Homo sapiens: one gene and its partners. The protein of the gene in region 1 purifies or fractionates together with the protein of each later gene. This does not show direct contact. Each region holds a gene or a part of one and is shown on either strand. Other genes may lie near its edges.

What was found.
Region 2: the proteins of ACADS (region 1) and POGLUT1 fractionate together in Homo sapiens (co-fractionation; one large-scale study listed by BioGRID). This does not show direct contact.
Region 3: the proteins of ACADS (region 1) and CLIC4 fractionate together in Homo sapiens (co-fractionation; one large-scale study listed by BioGRID). This does not show direct contact.
Region 4: the proteins of ACADS (region 1) and P4HA2 fractionate together in Homo sapiens (co-fractionation; one large-scale study listed by BioGRID). This does not show direct contact.

What each region holds. Positions count from the first base shown.
Region 1 is NC_000012.12:120,728,450-120,733,231, forward strand, and holds part of ACADS (short-chain specific acyl-CoA dehydrogenase, mitochondrial isoform 1 precursor), read left to right. Parts: intron 1-4,782. UniProt on the Homo sapiens protein: Short-chain specific acyl-CoA dehydrogenase is one of the acyl-CoA dehydrogenases that catalyze the first step of mitochondrial fatty acid beta-oxidation, an aerobic process breaking down fatty acids into acetyl-CoA and allowing the production of energy from fats.
Region 2 is NC_000003.12:119,471,234-119,476,015, forward strand, and holds part of POGLUT1 (protein O-glucosyltransferase 1 precursor), read left to right. Parts: intron 1-75; coding exon 76-219; intron 220-4,782. UniProt on the Homo sapiens protein: Dual specificity glycosyltransferase that catalyzes the transfer of glucose and xylose from UDP-glucose and UDP-xylose, respectively, to a serine residue found in the consensus sequence of C-X-S-X-P-C.
Region 3 is NC_000001.11:24,800,020-24,804,801, forward strand, and holds part of CLIC4 (chloride intracellular channel protein 4), read left to right. Parts: intron 1-4,782. UniProt on the Homo sapiens protein: In the soluble state, catalyzes glutaredoxin-like thiol disulfide exchange reactions with reduced glutathione as electron donor. Can insert into membranes and form voltage-dependent multi-ion conductive channels.
Region 4 is NC_000005.10:132,189,498-132,194,279, forward strand, and holds the end of P4HA2 (prolyl 4-hydroxylase subunit alpha-2 isoform 2 precursor), read right to left. Parts: intron 3,584-4,782; coding exon 3,513-3,583; 3' UTR 650-3,512; downstream 1-649. UniProt on the Homo sapiens protein: Catalyzes the post-translational formation of 4-hydroxyproline in -Xaa-Pro-Gly- sequences in collagens and other proteins.

The DNA of each region.
Region 1 (4,782 bases):
TCTCCGGCCTCTTCTCCTTGCCTGTTTTTTTTTTTAATTTTAATTTTAATTTATTTTTTATTTTTAAAAATTTTTTGAGACAGTCTTGCTCTGTCACCAGGTTGGAGTGCAGTGGCGCGATCTCGGCTCACTGCAACCTCCGCCTTCTGAGTTCAAACAATTGTTTCCTGCCTCAGCCTCCCGAGTAGCTGGGATTACAGGCGCACACCACCATACCCGGCTAATTTTATGTATTTTAGTAGAGACGGGGTTTCACCGTGTTGCCCAGGCTGGTCTCAAACTCCTGAGCTCAGGCAATCCACCCGCCTCGGCCTCGCAAAGTGCTGGGATTACAGGCGTGAGCCACCACACCCGGCCTTAAAAATGAGTTTTAAAAGGGACGTAAAACATTGTTTTTATATGAGGGACCCACTAACCGTTTCCCAGATATGAAGGCAGCAGGTGCTGCAGGCTTGCCTTGTCTGTCACTGCTGGGAAAGGGGTCTTACAGTTTCTTACGGTTTCTCTTGGGAGTCTGGAGACCACCAGGCTCAGCCTCATCAGTGCTGTTGCCTCTTCTCAGGGTGCAGGTCAGGGTTGCTGGGTCACAGACACTAGGAACCAAGAGTGACCATTGCAGGGGGCTCTAGGAGGCCACCCCTTGAGATAGCTCTGAAGGTCAGGCCTCTCTGTAGAAAATACTAAAATATTGGGGCTGGGACGGGCGCCTGGCTGCTGTTAGTTAATTACCATCAATTTACATAGGTCAGAAACGATGGACAAACCCGAACCCATTTTTTTCCCTTGACTGCTTCTCTTTTTCTTTTTTCTTTTTTTTTTTTTTTTTGAGATGGAGTCTCACTCTGTCCCCCAGGCTGGAGTGCAGTGGTGCGATCTTGGCTCACTGCAGCCTCTGTCTCCCAGGTTCAAGTGATTATCCTGCCTCAGCCTCCCAGGTAGCTGGTACTACAGGTGCCCGCCACCATGCCTGGCTAATTTTTGTATTTTTAGTAGAGATGGGGTTTCACCATGTTGGCCAGGCTGGTCTTGAACTCCTGACCTCAGGTGACCTGGCTGCCTCAGCCTCCCAAACTGCTGGGATTACAGGTGTGAGCCACTGCTTAATTATATTTTGGGTTTCTCCTTTTTGACTGTCTCGTCTCTTCCCTCTCCTGCCACCCCTTTTTCCTTCCCTCGGTGCTGGTCTCCCTGTCTCTTTTTCAGGAGGCCCTTTAACGAGTGCACATTACCATGGTTATTGCTTTTGTCCCCACTTTTTTTCTAGAATGTTCCTGTAGCTGGCCACAGTTTGTTGCCTGAAATCTAGAGATAAATTTCAGAGTGAGAAGGCCTGGGAAACAGCCCCTGTCACCACTGATAAAATGGGGTGAGGTGACTGTGTCCAGGCTCTGGGATGGGATGGAGAAGGCTGTGCTCTTAGGTGCTGCCCCAGAGCGGTGCTCCTCTCTTTTGAAATTTGCTGTCTCAACACCAGAGTGGGAGTGAGTGGAACTGCCATGTCTTTCACAGCCACAGGTAGATGCTTTATTTTTTAAATTATTTTTGTGTGTGTGTGATGGAGTCTCGCTCTGTCCCCAGGCTGGAGTACAGTGGTGCGATCTCGGCTCACTGTAGCCTTTGCCTCCTGGGTTCAAGCAATTTTCCTGCCTCAGCCTCCCAAGTAGCTGGAACTACAGGTGCGCACCACCACACCCGGCTAATTTTTGTCTTTTTAGTAGAGACGGGGTTTCACCATGTTGGCCAGGCTGGTCTCGAACTCTTGACTTTGTTATCCGCCCGCCTGGGCCTCCCAAAGTTCTGGGATTACAGGCATGAGCCACCGCGCCCAGCTGGTAGATGCTGTAAAAGAAAATGCTGATGGTGAGAAAGGAGGGAAGACAGGAGCTGGGGGAAAATTGAGGGCGATGGTATATGCTAGTGAGGTCCTTTGGGTGTGGGAATTGTGAATTCCTACAACTTTTGATTCTAGCTCATTGAGAAGTGTCGCATTAGTCAGAGGGAGGCGGCGCTGTGTAGGGAGGAGGAGGCTGGGGTTCTGTCTTGCCTCCTGGTGGCCTAGACCTGGCCACTGACACCACATACCCTTTCTGTGTGAATTCCCTCATCTGTAAGAGGAATATGGGGTCACCCTCATTCTGCTACCTGTCGGGACGTGTGACCAAGCATTTTAGGTGAGTATGAGGAACTGAACGCACCTAGGAGAGTTTCATCCTTTTACTCTCTTTCTGGGAATTTGGGTTCCCACTGTGTTTCTGGGGATGAGATGGAGTTATGGAGCGATTGGCTCATGTGCCATTTATTCCAGGGTTTTATACCAACAAGTTCCGGGGTGAAAAGGAGGGTGTGTCTCTGTCCAGGGAGATCTGAAGGTGCTTGGAGGGTGAGGCGGCTTGAGCTAGTTTAGCCTTATTCTGTTTTGCTGGTAAGCTAGAGAAAAAGGCTTTTGGTGAGGTTCATGCCTAGGCCTGACCGTGAGTCTTGGACAACTGCATATTTATTTTTGTTTTTGTTTTTTTGAGACAGGGCCTCACTGTCGCCCAGGCTGGAGTGCAGTGACACAAACACAGCTCACTGCAGCCTTGACCTCCCGGGCTCAGGGCTCAAGTGATCCTCATGCCTCACCTCCTGCAGTAGCTGGGACCACAGGTGTGCACCGCCATGCCTGGCTCATTTATTTTTATTTTTATAACTTTTTGTGGAGATGGGGGTCTCGCCATGTTGATGAAGCTGGTCTCAAACGCCTGGACTCAGATGATCCTCCTACCTCCGTCTCCCAAAGTGCTGGGATTACAGGCCTGAGCTACCACACCCTCTTTTTAAAATTTTTTTAATTAAAAAATTTTCTTTTAGAAACAGGGGTATCATCATGTTGGCCAGGCTGGATTTGAACGCCTGGGCTCAAGTGATTCTCCTGCCTCAACCTCCTCCTGAGTAGCTGGAGACCTGCGTATTTCTAGCACTTGGTAGAGTATTGTCCAGCAGCAGAGGTGTTCCTTAATAAAATAGTTTTTTTTTTTTTTTTTGAGGCGGAGTCTCACTCTGTTGCCCAGGCTGGAGTATAGTGGCACGATCTTGGCTCACTGCAACCTCCACCTCCTGGGTACAAATGATTCTCCTGTCTCAGCCTCCCAAGTAGCTGGGATTATAGGCGCCCACCATCACGCCTGGCTAATTCTTGTATTTATTTTATTTTATTTTATTTTTTTTATTGATCATTCTTGGGTGTTTCTCGCAGAGGGGGATTTGGCAGGGTCATAGGACAATAGTGGAGGGAAGGTCAGCAGATAAACAAGTGAACAAAGGTCTCTGGTTTTCCTAGGCAGAGGACCCTGCGGCCTTCCGCAGTGTTTGTGTCCCTGGGTACTTGAGATTAGGGAGTGGTGATGACTCTTAAGGAGCATGCTGCCTTCAAGCATCTGTTTAACAAAGCACATCTTGCACCGCCCTTAATCCATTTAACCCTGAGTGGATACAGCACATGTTTCAGAGAGCACAGGGTTGGGGGTAAGGTCATAGATCAACAGCATCCCAAGGCAGAAGAATTTTTCTTAGTACAGAACGAAATGAAGTCTCCCATGTCTACTTCTTTCTACACAGACACAGCAACCATCCGATTTCTCAATCTTTTCCCCACCTTTCCCCCTTTTCTATTCCACAAAACTGCCATCGTCATCATGGCCTGTTCTCAATGAGCTGTTGGGTACACCTCCCAGACGGGGTGGTGGCCGGGCAGAGGGGCTCCTCACTTCCCAGTACGGGCGGCCGGGCAGAGGCGCCCCTCACCTCCCGGACGGGGCGGCTGGCCGGGCGGGGGCTGACCCCCACCTCCCTCCCGGACGGGGCGGCTGGCCGGGCGGGGGCTGCCCCCAACCTCCCTCCCGGACGGGGTGGCTGCCGGACGGGGTGGCTGCCGGGCGGAGACGCTCCTCACTTCCCAGACGGGGTGTCTGCTGGGCGGAGGGGCTCCTCACTTCTCAGACGGGGTGGCTGCCAGGCAGAGGGGCTCCTCACTTCTCAGATGGGGTGGCTGCCGGGCGGAGGGGCTCCTCACTTCTCGGGGCGGGCAGGCAGAGACACTCCTCACCTCCCAGACGGGGTGGCGGTCGGGCAGAGACACTCCTCAGTTCCCAGACGGGGTCGCGGCCGGGCAGAGGCGCTCCTCACATCCCAGACGGGGCAGTGGGGCAGAGGCGCTCCCCACATCTCAGACGATGGGCGGCCGGGCAGAGACGCTCCTCACTTCCTAGATGGGATGGCGGCCGGGAAGAGGCGCTCCTCACTTCCCAGACTGGGCAGCCGGGCAGAGGGGCTCCTCACATCCCAGACGATGGGCGGCCAGGCAGAGACGCTCCTCATTTCCCAGACGGGGTGGCGGCCGGGCAGAGACTGCAATCTCGGCACTTTGGGAGGCCAAGGCAGGCGGCTGGGAGGTGGAGGTTGTAGCGAGCTGAGATCAAGCCACTGCACTCCAGCCTGGGCAACATTGAGCACTGAGTGAACGAGACTCCGTCTGCAATCCCGGCACCTCGGGAGGCCAAGGCTGGCAGATCACTCCTGGTTAGGAGCTGGAGACCAGCCTGGCCAACACAGCGAAACCCCGTCTCCACCAAAAAAATACGAAAACCAGTCAGGCGTGGCGGCGCGCGCCTGCAATCGCAGGCACTCGGCAGGCTGAGGCAGGAGAATCAGGCAGGGAGGTTGCAGTGAGCAGAGATGGCGGCAGTACAGTCCAGCTTCGGCTCGGCATCAGAGGGAGACCGTGGAAAGAGAGGGAGAGGGAGA
Region 2 (4,782 bases), on another chromosome or scaffold:
AATGCACTTAGGAAGTAGGTGGAATGGCACCACTCTCTTGGCCTGCTTTCCTTGATGACTCCCATTCTTTCCCAGTGTCATAGAAGAGGATCTAACTCCTTTCCGAGGAGGCATCTCCAGGAAGATGATGGCAGAGGTAGTCAGACGGAAGCTAGGGACCCACTATCAGATCACTAAGAACAGACTGTACCGGGAAAATGACTGCATGTTCCCCTCAAGGTAAGAGTTAACGAGGTAGATATATCTTCTGACTTTATTACATATGGGCTTGATACCCTTTTATAGAGGAGCCAATTCATGGGACTAACAAGCAGATCCCTCCTCACATTTCAGGCGGACTATGAAATAGTGACGAGCTCTTCTCCTTGCCTGGGAATTTTTCTTGCGAGCTCCTCTCAAAGCCTGTCTCCTCTGTGAGGCTTGGTTCATCACTGGTTGTACTGGTGGTGGCTCTGCCTCTTCTGCTCCTTCCCTGGGATATAGTAGCGGCAGGACACAGGCTGATGAGGCCTAGCAGGCCTAGCAGGAGGGAGCTAGGCTGAAGGAGGAAGAGGAATTGGTTGAATGTCTGTCATCGGCCAGTGTAGTTCTAGATACTGAATATTCAAGGGGAGGTGGTAGAGTCAAGAGGAGTAACTAGATGGGGTGGTGGTGGCTCACACCTGTGATCCCAGCACTTTGTGGTGGATTACTTGAGCCCAGGAGTTGGATTATGGCAAATAATCCGGCAGTGGCAAATAATACAACAGAGTGAGACCCTGTCTATTAAAAAATAAATAAATAAAGAGGAGTAACTAGTGCTGCAAATTACACTAGCCAGGACTTCAGAACTTCAGGTGTGAGACCTGAGGTACCATGTCAGTGGGCTGAAGGCAGGGTGGTAAGCAGGGAGGGTCATGGGCTGAGGGTGGAGGTTGGGTTTAGGCAGCATTGCACACACCAAAAGATAAACTTTATTTTTGGAGTTTGTTTTTTTTTTTTAACTCAGATCTTTATAAAATTAGAAGGTACAAAACTCAGAGGGCATAATATTCCCTTATGTAAGAGCATCTTTCTAAACAATCCCTATTCTGTCATTAAAAGTGAAATAAATGTGCAGAGTTGCAAAAAATTATCGATTCGTTCATAAAGATTTGTATTATTTGTATTTAATAACAACTTTGTAAGAATTTAATATTTATTCTTATAAGTATATAAACAAGGCCGGGTGCGGTGGCTCAAGCCTGTAATCCCAGCACTTTGGGAGGCTGAGATGAGCGGATCACTTGAAGTCGGGAGTTTGAGACCAAACTGACCAACATGGAGAAACCCTGTCTTTACTAAAAATACAAAATTAGCCAGCTGTGGTGGCGCATGCCTGTAATCCCAGCTACTCAGGAGGCTGAGGCAGGAGAATTGCTTGAACCCAGGAGGCAGAGGTTGCGGTGAGCTGAGATTGTGCCATTGCACTCCAGGCTGGGAAACAAGAGCGAAACTGTCTAAATAAATAAATAAATAAATGTAAACAAGAAAACAGGCTGGGCATGGTGGCTTGTGCCTATAATCCCAGCACTTCGGGAAGTCAATGCACGCAGATCGCTTGAGCTCAGGAGTTCAAGACGAGCCTAGGCCACATGGCAAAACCTCATCTCTACAAAAAATACAAACATTAGCTGAGTGTGGTGGCATGTGTTTGTAGTCCTAGCTACTTGGGAGGCTGAAGTGAGTGGATCACCTGAGCCCAGGAGGTCAAGGCTGCAGTAAGCCTGAGCCGTGATTATGCCACTGCACTCCAGCCAGGGTGATAGAGCAAGACCTGTCTCAAATAAATAATAATAAAGAACAATAAAAAAGAAAGATTATTTAATATCTCACTACCCTGAGGAAATCAGTTACCCTTTGGCTATCAGATATCGGAGGAAATAAGGTTGTAGAGGAAAAAATCGTTAAGGTATTTTAAACAGACATTTGTTTCATTATTTGGAACTCAATAATAGAGACTTTAAGTACAAATTGTGAGTCTAGGAGAATTTTTGATTTCCACAGATGAGAAATAAAATAAGAATATAGACATTGTTGGACTTTGAAAGCTTACCCAATGTTTAATAGTTTGCTGAACAATTGCCAAATGAAATGAAATGCTTTCAAAGTTTCTGAAAGGCACAATTCTCTTCTTCCTGAGCTCAGAACATTTTGGTCATAATCATGAGCTTAGAAATGTTCTGAAGGGAGTACAGGACCTTCATTAGCAATAAAATAATATATATTTCCAATGACACTGAAAGTTCCCTATCCTAGCTACATATACAACTAAGGAAAACAGAGAGGGACAAAATACGAATAGAATGCAGTATTCCAAAACACAATCCTGAATGAAATGCACACAGTCGTATGATATCTCAAAGATTCCCATATAGTTAGAAATAATATCTTTCTACGTCTAGATACTTTTTTTTTTTTTTTTGAGAGAGAGAATCTCACTCTGTCACCCAGTCTGGAGTGCAGTGGTGTGATCTCGGCTCACTGCAACCTCTGCCTCCCGGGTTCAAGCCATTCTCTTGCCTCAGCCTGCTGAGTAGCTGGGACTACAGGCGCCCGCCACCACACCTGGCTAATTTTTGTGTTTTTAGTAGAGACGGGGTTTCACCTCGTTCGTCAGGCTGGTCTCAAACTCCTGACCTCATGATCTGCCTGCCTCGGCCTCCCAAAGTGCTGGGATTACAGGCAGGTCTAGATACTTTTAACTCATCCAGTTTCAGAAATCTATGTGACATTTTAAAAACTCAGTTTTGAATAAAATAAAATATAAACTCCACATTTCAAGGATGAGCAGAGGAACCAGAGGTTTATCTAATTAATGCTAGAGACAAGTCATTTCAAAGATGAGGAGTAATGGTATTTTTTAATAACAGCTTTATTGAGGTGTGGTTAACATAAATTACATATAAAGTATACAATGTAAATGTTCCCACAACAAAAAAATAGTATGTGAGGATATGTTAATTAGCTTGATATACTCATTCCACAATGTAAACATATATCAAAACATTACATTGTATCCTGTAAATATGTACAATTATTATTTATCAATTAAAAATAAAACCTACAGTGTACACTGATAAGTCTTCATGTATGTTTATACCAAGATAATGAACCTTCCATCACAACCAAAACGTTCCTTCTGCCTCTTTGCATTCCCTCTCTCCTGCGTCTCCCTGTCTCCCTCTCCTCCCCATGCCCCACCTTCAGGCAGCCGCTGACTACTTTCTCGAATTATAGATTATTTTCTAGTTTTCTATAAATGGAATCATATAAGAGAGTATATTTGAAAAGCCAAATGTGGCCGGGCATGGTGGATCACACCTGTAATCCCAGCAGTTTGGGAGGCTGAGGTGAGTGGATCACTTGAGGTCAGGAGTTCGAGATCACCCTGGCCAATATGGTGAAACCCCGACTCTACTAAAAATACAAAAAAATTTAGCCAGGCATGGTGGCAGGCGCCTGTAATCCCAGCTACTTGGGAGGCTGAGGCAGGAAAATCGCTTGAACCCGGGAGGCGGAGGTTACAGTGAGCTAAGACCACGCCATTACACTCCAGCCTGGTCAACAAGAAAGAAACTCCATCTCAAAAAATAAAAATTAAATTAAACTAAATTAAAAGCCAAATGTGAAAGAAATACGAGCATTTTAGCTGTAATGTATAAATTGTACTGCAATATTTTTTTACATTTTTTAACTAGTTTTTTTTTTCTTTTAGTGTCAAAGAGTATTACATACACTTTGGATATGTAAAATATCCAAATATTTTACCATGCTAAAATATTTGGATACCTCCAAAAGACATTCAGTGAAAAGGAAGTTTCTCTTCCACCTCAGACCCTCAGACTGCTAGTCCCTGAGACCTCTTTTCAAAAGACAATTAGAATTCTGTGTCTTGTATATCCTTCTAGAAATAGTCTGTACATTTACAAGCATCTAGACTCATCAACAAAATAAAACATGCTGTCTTCTGTTCTGCACTTAGATTTCTTTTCCATATAACAGTAGATTTTGAGATTGTTCCATAAGAGTCCATAGAGAATGCCTCACTTTTTCATGGCTGCATAATAACTTATTATATGGATTTCTTTATTCAGCCCTCTATCAGTGGACATTTAGATTATCCCTTACCACATCACTTTGCTTTTTGGATAACGCAAGCAATGCTGCAGTGAACATCCTTGTTACTGTGAACACTCATGTAAATATATATGTAGGCTAAATTCCTAAAAGTATAATAACTAGGGCAATTAATGTCATTTTAAAATCTTGATAAATAGGCTGGGTGAGGTGGCTCACGCCTGTTATCCCAGCACTTTGGATGGCTGAGACAGGCAGATCATCTGAGGTCAGGAGTTCAAGACCAGCCTGGCCAACATGGTGAGAACCTATCTCTACTAAAAATAAAAAAATTAGCTGGGCATGGTGGCCTGTGCCTGTAATCCTAGCTACTCGGGAGGCTGAGGCAGGAGAATCACTTGAAACCCGAGGTGGAGGTTGCAGTCAGCTGAGATTGCGCCATTGCACTCCAGCCTGGGCCACAGAGCAAGGCTCCATCTCAAAAAAAAAAAAAAATCTTGATAAACAGGCTGGGCACAGTGGCTCTCACCTGTAATCCCAGCACTTTGGGAGGCTGAGGTGGGAGGATCACTTGAGCCCAAGAGTTCAAGATCAGTCTGGACAACATACCAAGACTGTCTCTCCACACACACACACACACACACACACACACACACACACACAAACACATACAGAGTTGCCAGG
Region 3 (4,782 bases), on another chromosome or scaffold:
CCAGCCGCCCCGTCCGGGAGGGAGGTGGGGGGGTCAGCCCCCTGCCCGGCCAGCTGCCCCGTCTGGGAGGTGAGGGGCGCCTCTGCCCGGCCGCCCCTACTGGGAAGTGAGGAGCCCCTCTGCCCGGCCAGCCGCCCCGTCCGGGAGGGAGGTGGGGGGGGTCAGCCCCCCGCCCGGCCAGCCACCCCGTCCGGGGGGGGGGGTCAGCCCCCCCACCTGGCCAGCCGCCCCGTCTGGGAGGTGAGGGGCGCCTCTGCCCGGCCGCCCCTACTGGGAAGTGAGGAGCCCCTCTGCCCGGCCAGCCGCCCCGTCCGGGAGGGAGGTGGGGGGGTCAGCCCCCCACCCGGCCAGCCGCCCCGTCCGGGAGGGAGGTGGGGGGGTCAGCCCCCAGCCTGGCCAGCTGCCCCGTCTGGGAGGGAGGTGGAGGGGTCAGCCCCCTGCCCGGCCAGCCGCCCCGTCCGGGAGGTGAGGGGCGCCTCTGCCCGGCCGCCCCTACTGGGAAGTGAGGAGCCCCTCTGCCTGGCCACCACCCCGTCTGGGAGGTGTGCCCAACAGTTCATTGAGAATGGGCCAGGATGACAATGGCGGCTTTGTGGAATAGAAAGGCGGGAAAGGTGGGGAGAAGATTGAGAAATCGGATGGTTGCCGTGTCTGTGTAGAAAGAAGTAGACATGGGAGACTTTTCATTTTGTTCTGCACTAAGAAAAATTCTTCTGCCTTGGGATCTTGTTGGTCTGTGACCTTACCCCCAACCCTGTGCTCTCTGAAACGTGTGCTGTGTCCACTCAGGGTTAAATGGATTAAGGGTGGTGCAAGATGTGCTTTGCTAAACAGATGCTTGAAGGCAGCATGCTCGTTAAGAGTCATCACCACTCCCTAATCTCAAGTAATCAGGGACAAACACTGCGGAAGGCCGCAGGGTCCTCTGCCTAGGAAAACCAGAGACCTTTGTTCACTTGTTTATCTGCTGACCTTCCCTCCACTATTGTCCCATGACCCTGCCAAATCCCCCTCTGTGAGAAACACCCAAGAATTATCAATAAAAAAATAAATTAAAAAAAAAAAAAAGAATAGTTGTATTAATGGGAAAAACTAGGGTTTGGCAGTGGATTCCTCTTGATGCAAGTGTCACAACATGATTTGCTATTATACTGATTTTTAAAACTATTAGTCTGTTCTCACATTGCTATAAAGAACTACCTGAGACTGGGTAATTCATAAAGAAAAGAGGTTTAATTGACTGGCAGTTCTGCAGGTTGTACAGGAAACTTGTCTGGGGAGGCCTCAGGAGACTTACAAGTATGATAGAAGTCAAAGGGGAAGCAGACATGTCTTTCATGGCCGGAGAAGGAAGAAGAGAGAAGGGGGAGGTGTTACATATTTTTAAACAACCAGATCTTGTGAGAACTCACTCTCTGTCACAGGAACAGCAAGGGAAGTCTGCCCTTGTGATCCAGTCACCTCCCACAAGGCCCCTCTTCCACCATTGAAAATTACAATTTGATATGAGATTTGGGCAAGGACAGAAATTTAAACCATATTATATATCAAGTCATGAACAGTGTCCAGGAAAAGATATTGACAGCCTATCACTTGATAAAGTGGCAGAATTAATCTATGTTATCCCTCTGAGCATCACATGCTGATAGTTACCTGAGAGCTATAATTCCATTCCAAGTTCTAGGTTAGTGTACTCAGATTTCTGTCATTCCCTTAAAATACATTTTTACTTACTGCTAGTGCATATATTTGAAATTTTACAGACTTTAAAATTTATTGAACATAAGCCATAAAGTCATCAAGGAACCCCTTTAGTTATGTATATAAATGTAGAAATAAGCCTTTGGGAATAGTGAGTTAAAACTACAAGCTCTTGGGAAGACATTACCTTATTCATGTTGGGCAGAGATGTAAGAATGAAATAAGTCATGTAGTTACCCTTCTATTACTGTTTTTTTTTTATACATGTGTACACAAAGCAAGTTTCCCAATATAACTCCTAAAAATAGAGTGTGCCACCAGGCACACACCCTTACTGTGTCCTAAAATACATGAATTTCTCCTATTCCATTTTTGGCTTGGAGCAAGTGAGTTGACTGCCATTCTTTGAAAAAGCTGTCATTGAATAGTTTAATACAGTGCTTTAATTGTGATACATACCAGTAATAGTGCCATAAACATGGGAATCTGGGTCAGAAAAGGAAGTAAACCCATTATAGCTATTTCAGAGTTGTCTGTTTCTTTTCATTTGCAGATTTTTTAAAGGCATTATTCCTATAGGTTGATTGATATTTGCAGATTTGTATATATATGTTAAAGTGTGTATGTGGAAATATGTGTAAGTGTATATGTTAAGTGTTTATATATATAAAAAGTGGCGCATGGGAGGTAGGCATTCAGGGCCTTATAATTAGAAAATATCAAAGAAGATATATGTTTATTACCTAGGGCTTTATGTAAAATCAATGGTAGAGAGCACTTAAAATTGAAGCTTATATTTTTTGGTCTTTAACAATCATAGGTCTCCAGTAAATATAAAAAATGCTTCTTAGGGCAACTAAAACTAAGCAAGTAGTACGTGATAATGAGTCTGTACCATCCCTACCCCCTAGTCATCAACTTCCCCTTCAGAGAGATAATTTATTTTAGGTTTGGTCTTTATTCTTCCAAATCTTTTCCTTTTTTCTTTTTCTTTTTTTTTTTTTTTTGAGACACGGTCTGCCTCTGTCACCGAGGCTGGAGTGCAGTGGCACGATCACAGCTTACTCTGTAGCCTTGAGCTCCTGGGCTCAAGTAATCCTCCAGCCTCAGCCTCCCAAGTAGCTAGGACTACAGGCATTTACTGCCATACCTGGCTAATTTTTTATTTTTAAGAGACAGGGTCTCCCTGTGTTGCCCAGGCTGGTCTTGAACTCCTGGGCTCAAGCAGTCCTCTGGCCTTGGTCTCCCAAAGTGCTGGGATTACAGACTTTAGCCACTGTGCCTGGCCTCGTCCAAATCTTTTCTATGAGTTTACACACTTGCAGTCTTGAACAAAATTTTAAAGAGAAAGTACCTCAAGAAAGTGAGCATTGGTTCAAAAAACAAAAACAAACAACCCACCAGTATATATGAAAGTTATCACAGAGGAATAAAACATCCCTGTAGTACTTTTCATAATATATTCTTAATCTTAAAACATTAAATGTGACTCTTTTTAGAAATCTTGGGGGAGAAAATATGCCTACAGTGCTTATTTTCCTGCTTTTCCTGGTAATTGCCTAATATCTTGGTGAGAAGTACTGACTCCAGAACAAACCAGTGGAGAACAATAGAACTCCTCTGAGAGTTACTTAGCAGCTCACTCTATGATTTGAAAAAAATGATTGTTACATGACATTTCATCCATAAGAACAAGCCCATTTCTAGTTCTGGCACTGTATGACATGTTCTCTTTGAATCTCAGTTGGCATTAATGACTATGCTGGTAGTATTCATGTGTCCCTTGTGAGGCTGTGAACAATCTCCCATTACTTGCCTGCCAGAGCAGCCTTCGTGCTTTGGTGGGAGTCATTTCCAAATCTAATTTTCTGTTCATATTGCAATTTAAAGAACGTTTAGATAGAAAAAAAAGGGCCCAGGCTTCACAAAGAATTTCAATTTACATCAACGATTTGAACAAAAGCTTCAGATAATATAAGTGAAAATACTAAAATTGGGGCAGAGTTAAAGATGTTCTGGCATGTCATCAGTTGGGAAACAACCATGGCATAGTATAGAAAATTTCAGGAGTGAGACCTAGCTGTGTATGGAGAGAGCTCTATCACTGATTTCACTGGGACCTGGGGCGAGCTGCCTCATCTTCCTTGGAGTTAGTTACCTTATATTTAAAATCAGGAGAAAAGGGAAAAAAACTTCACTTTTGTAATAGTTTAAAATGTTACAATGGAACTATGAAACTGATAGTTCTGCATATCTTAAAAGGCAGTTAGAAACTCAGAAAAAAATCTGATTCCCAAATAGACTCTTCAGATAGTTTTATCTTCATGATCATGTCTCTGTGGTTCCACCTTTCTGAAAACAGTCTTCAGTAACTTAAGAAATCATTTCAACTTCCATGATCTTCAGTAGCAGCAGCATGAATGACACATGCCAAGAGACTAAATGGAATGAGATAAGCCTGTCTTTCAGAGACATCATCTATTTCCTGCTGCTGTCCAGACAGGAAAGTCAGACTCCATTTTTCCCCTTTGTAAAGTTGACTTGAGCTACATGAAGCACTTGTTAGAACAGTCCAATTCAAGATAATTGTGCTTTATGACTGCATTCAGAATCACATGTGTACCCACTGTGTGTGTGGGGGGTGTGTGTATGTGTGTGCATGTGTGTGGGTGGGTGGGTGGAGGGGGTGTGTGTGGGTAGGTGGGTGGTGGGGGTGTGTGTGTATGTGTGGGTGGGTGGGTGGTGGGGTGTGTGTAGGTGGGTTGGAGTGTGTGGGTTGAGGGTGTGTGTGTATGTGGGTGGGTGGGGGGATGTGTGTATGTGGGTGGGTGGGGGGATGTGTGTACGTGGGTGGGTGGGGATGTGTGTGTGTGTGTGATTGAGAGGGGAGGGAGATATAGACACACAGAGAGGGAGTATTTTGTTGCTATGTCTTTATGTTCTTTTTTAAGACGATTTCAAAGATGATACATCCTGTTGAGGCTGCTAAGAGCTGAATTAATAGAATTATTAGTGAATGTTTTTCTAAACCTGTTATCAGTATACACTTTACTCCTAAACTGTTATCAAGATGGTAAAAAT
Region 4 (4,782 bases), on another chromosome or scaffold:
AAATTAAGAACTCAGTAGATGGGTTTAGCAGCAAAAGTAATAAATGAATTGCAAGACAGATCAGTATAAAATATCTAGTCTGAAACACAAAGAAAAAAGCATGAGAGACACAAGAACTGGAGATATATAGAGCACTATGAAAAGTTCTAACATTCAGATTACTGAAGTCTCAGAGCAGATAGAGAAAAAATGGGACAGAAACAATAGTTGAAGATATAATGTCTGAGAAATTTCCAAAATTGATCAGACATCAACCCAGAAATTCAAGAAGCTAAATGCCAAGCAAGAAAAGAAAAAGAAACCCATACTAAGTACACCATAGTAAAACTACTGAAAACCAAAAAGAAAAAAATCTTTAAAGCAGCCAGGTGAAGGCAAAATCACCTTCAAAGGAACAACAAAGGACCAGATAGCGACTTTTCAACAGAAATGGTATAAGCCAGAAAACAAAGAATTACATCTTTAAAGTCCTTAAACAGACTCCTGTATGCACTTGATAGAAGACAGAATTAGTGAACTTTGTACAAAACAGCTATAAAGTTCTCCCCAAATATAGCATATATATAAAAATATGAAAGACAGATTAAGAGATAATATCATGATATGATCCAACTTACATTTAATCAGTTACAGAAGAAACAGACAATGCTGAAAGAAAAAATCATTTAATTTTCCACAATTGATTAAGGATACCATTGTACAAATTCAAGAATCCAAAAAAGTCTCAAACAGGAAAAGAAAAAACCTACAAACAAACCACCTAGTGTGCCAGTCACGTTTCTATTCTCAGCTGCAAGCTCATCCTTGTAGTCTCTACTGTTCTACTGTAGCTGCCACTCTGTAAACTACATTTCCCAGATTCCCTTATCAGCTGGCTTCCTGTTAGGGTCTACCAATGGAAGCCACTAGAGGGAGATTAGACGGCAGTAGATAGCAATTGCCCTAGACCCAGTGGTTTTTTGCATGAGACAATTTTATATATTAAGCCCCTGAGATTTAAGGATTATTACTACAGAAAAAGCCCATCCTATCCTAATAAAATATGCAAAAAATTAAAAGTAGAACTTTACACTTCATACCACGTATAAAGATAAACCTAAATGACAAAGACTATATAGCTTTCAGAAGAGAACACAGGAAACATCCTCATGATCTTGGGGTATAGAAGGATTTCTCAAATAAGACATAAAAAACATAAATCAAAAAGAAAAAGCTTGATAGATTTGACATAAAAATTAAAAGCTCCTGTTTATCAAAAGACAGAACTAAAATAGTGAAAAGACAAGCCACAGAAGATATTTGCAAAATATATAACAAAGAACTTGTGTACATATTTTAAAATTTGTATGAATAAGAACACTTGAAGAAACCTAATAACTAATAAACATGAAAAGTTGTTCAACATTATCAGTAATGTTCAAATAGACACTATACATGTACTGTCTTAGGTAGAGCTGCTATAATAAAATACCATACATTGAATTAAAAACATTTATTTCTCATGGTTATGGGAACTGGAAAGTCCGAGATCAAGATGCTAGTAGGTTTGTTTCTGGTAAGGGCCCCCTGGTTCATAGACAGGCATCTTCTTGCTGTGTGTTCGCATGGCAGAAAGAGGGCTGGGATCTCTTCATAAGGGCACTAATCCCACTCACGTGGGCTCCATGCTTACGACCTCCCAAGGGCTCCGCATCCTAATATCATCACATTGGGGGTTAAGATTTCAACATATGGGCCGGGCGCGGTGGCTCACGCCTGTAATCCCAGCACTTTGGGAGGCCGAGGCGGGCGGATCACGAGGTCAGGAGATCGAGACCATCCCGGCTAAAACGGTGAAACCCCGTCTCTACTAAAAATACAAAAAATTAGCCGGGCGTAGTGGCGGGCGCCTGTAGTCCCAGCTACTTGGGAGGCTGAGGCAGGAGAATGGCGTGAACCCGGGAGGCGGAGCTTGCAGTGAGCCGAGATCCCGCCACTGCACTCCAGCCTGGGCGACAGAGCGAGACTCCGTCTCAAAAAAAAAAAAAAAAAAAAAGATTTCAACATATGAATCTGGTGGGGGGACACAAACATTTAGTCCGTAACATGTACCAAGCTAGCTAAAATTCAAAAGTATGAAAATACTAAATACTGGAAAAGATTGGGGTAATAACTCTCATTTACTCCTGGTGAGAATGTGTATAACCACCTTGGAATACATTATTTAGTAAAGTTGGAACACCATTAAGACTCCACATTTCCACTCCTAGATATATATCCTACAGAAATATGTGTTTATATGTGCACCAGGAATCATGTATAAAAATGTTTATCACAGCATTATTCACAATATACAAAGACTGAAATCAATTCCAGTGTTTATCAGCAGCATGCTGCCTGTATTATGGTACAGTCCTACAATAAGCATTAACAAAACTGAATGTACTATAAAGATTAAAACAAATTACAGCTACACAAGCAACACGGATGAATCTTAAAACAATGTTGAACAAAAGAAGCCACATACCCAAAAATATTTACTCTCATTCTATTAGTAAAAGTTCAAAATCAGGGAAAACAGAATAACTACTTATTTAGGGATCTAATCATAGATGGTAAAACTATAAAGACAAGCAAAGGAATGAGTACCACACATCATGAGACAATGATTTATCTCCAAAGTGCTGGGGGCAGTGAAGGAGATGTGATCTAGGAGGGGTTCCCAAGGGGCTCCTGAGGTACTGACTTGAAAACGTTCTCTTTTCTAACTTGGTGTTGACACAGGTGCTCCTGCTCACCTTCATATTTTTTTAAGTATACATCTGTGTATCATGAACAATTCTTATCTCAAAATTTAAAAATGAAGTACACATTATAACAGCATTACAATCATGAACACATGTGCTATGTTCTCTGGGAGACAAAGAGAAACTATTTACCCTACTTTCCAGAAAAGGACACTGACACTTAGAGGGAACACAAGTGTTGAAACCAGGTCTGAAATCCAAGACCCAAGATGCTTTTTTGCTGCTAAAGCATTCATTATCCAGACTCTGCCTGCATGAAGGTGATGCATAGGAAATGATGAACCTGGTAAAAGCTTCCAGTCTTAAAAATACTCCAAGTAAGGCTCTTTAAGGCTTCTGGTAGGGACATTTTATTTTTTGGTAAAGCCACAATAGATAGAAATGCCATAAAAACAAACATGTAAACAAGGTATCAGAACTTTGGTTCACTGAAACATCTCACACCTAAAACACCTGAGGTACAAAGGCACCTTGCTAGGCGCTAGACAGCTAACTCTGCTGCAGCCACTTTGATCCTAGCCTTGGGGCCAGGGATGGCACAGGCTGAATGGAAGGGCTGGGACTTCAGTCACACAGGAGTCGCCCTAGTATGGTCTCCCTCTGCTCCAGACAAACATTCATTTCTCCAAAAATCAGCCTGATAGGAACATACAAAGGAACATACAAAGGTGTCTGTCACGTTGACATGGGCTGAAGGACCAGGAAGGGGAAGGACAGAAAAGGATGTCAGTCAACTTCTGTTGATCCACAAGGTCTCAAGAACTCCTGTCCTCGTTCATGGAACCACTTATTGGAGACTGTGAAAAGAAAGCAAGCATGTTACAATCCTATTGGTCAGTTTAGTAGCCTGAATGAATGACTCCTTCATGATGACCCCCTGCACTGTGCCCTGGAATCAGACACAAATAAGACAAGACATGATCTCAGGCCTCAATTTGCTGAAGAATTGGTAAGGAAGACACATGTAAACAGATAATTGTATGAAATTCTGCCAGTGGGACAAGATACATGTGTGCAGGTTGCCATGGGAATAGCACCCAAGGGCATCTAATCATGCCCTTTCATGCCCATGACCTTTGATGCCCTTTGGCTCTATTCCCATGGCAACCTGCACACATGTTTCTTGCTCTTAGAGGGAAGAGGAAATCCTAGGGCTAGAATATAAAGCTACATAGAAGTTATCCTGGGAAGAAGATGGGCATACCCAGATGGTTCTCTCACCAAGAGGGTCCCAGGAGTGACAACAGGATGAGAAAGTAATCAAGGCAGAAGCCACCCTGACGTGTGTTGGGGACTCAAGAGGCCTAATATTACTGGGAGGTGGCAGGTAGAAACTGAGAGGTAGGGTGTGAGGATGAGGAAGACTGTCAGCATTGCAGAGGGCTTGGACATTAACCTCAGGAGCCGTGGACCAGCAGATCCAGTCTGTATGCCATGGGCACAAGAGCAACAGAGCTGCTGCCAGCACTATCACCCCACGCCATATCTTCAAACACACAGGAACCATGATTCTGTTCCTCACAGACTCTCTCATAATGAATAAAAATTTTATTTCAATGCACTACTGAAGTCACAGAGCTTTTAAAATATAAAGTAATAACATGTACTTCATTGAAAAAAATAAAATTGTCGCAAGGCTTATAATGATAAATAGCACTCCTCCTAAGCCTCTCCTTCCCATCCCTAATCTCCACTCCCAGGGAACATTAAACTCCTCTAGCTGTTTCTTCTGATATTTAACCTCATTTTTCTAGATAAGATGCTTATAGTTCTATTCCTTGACTTTCAACTTTGGAATTCTTTTATTCTACCCCTAAAACACAAACTCATCCCCTCCCACCTTTCCAGTACAGGTAAATCATAAGTTTTAGTTAAAGTAATACTCAGTGTGTACATAATTATATCATGTGTTACACCTGAGCCATCTAGTAGATTATACTTACATTTCCTTTCTTGTACAACTTTTTTTCCCCTGAATTCAGCAACTGCCTTGTTT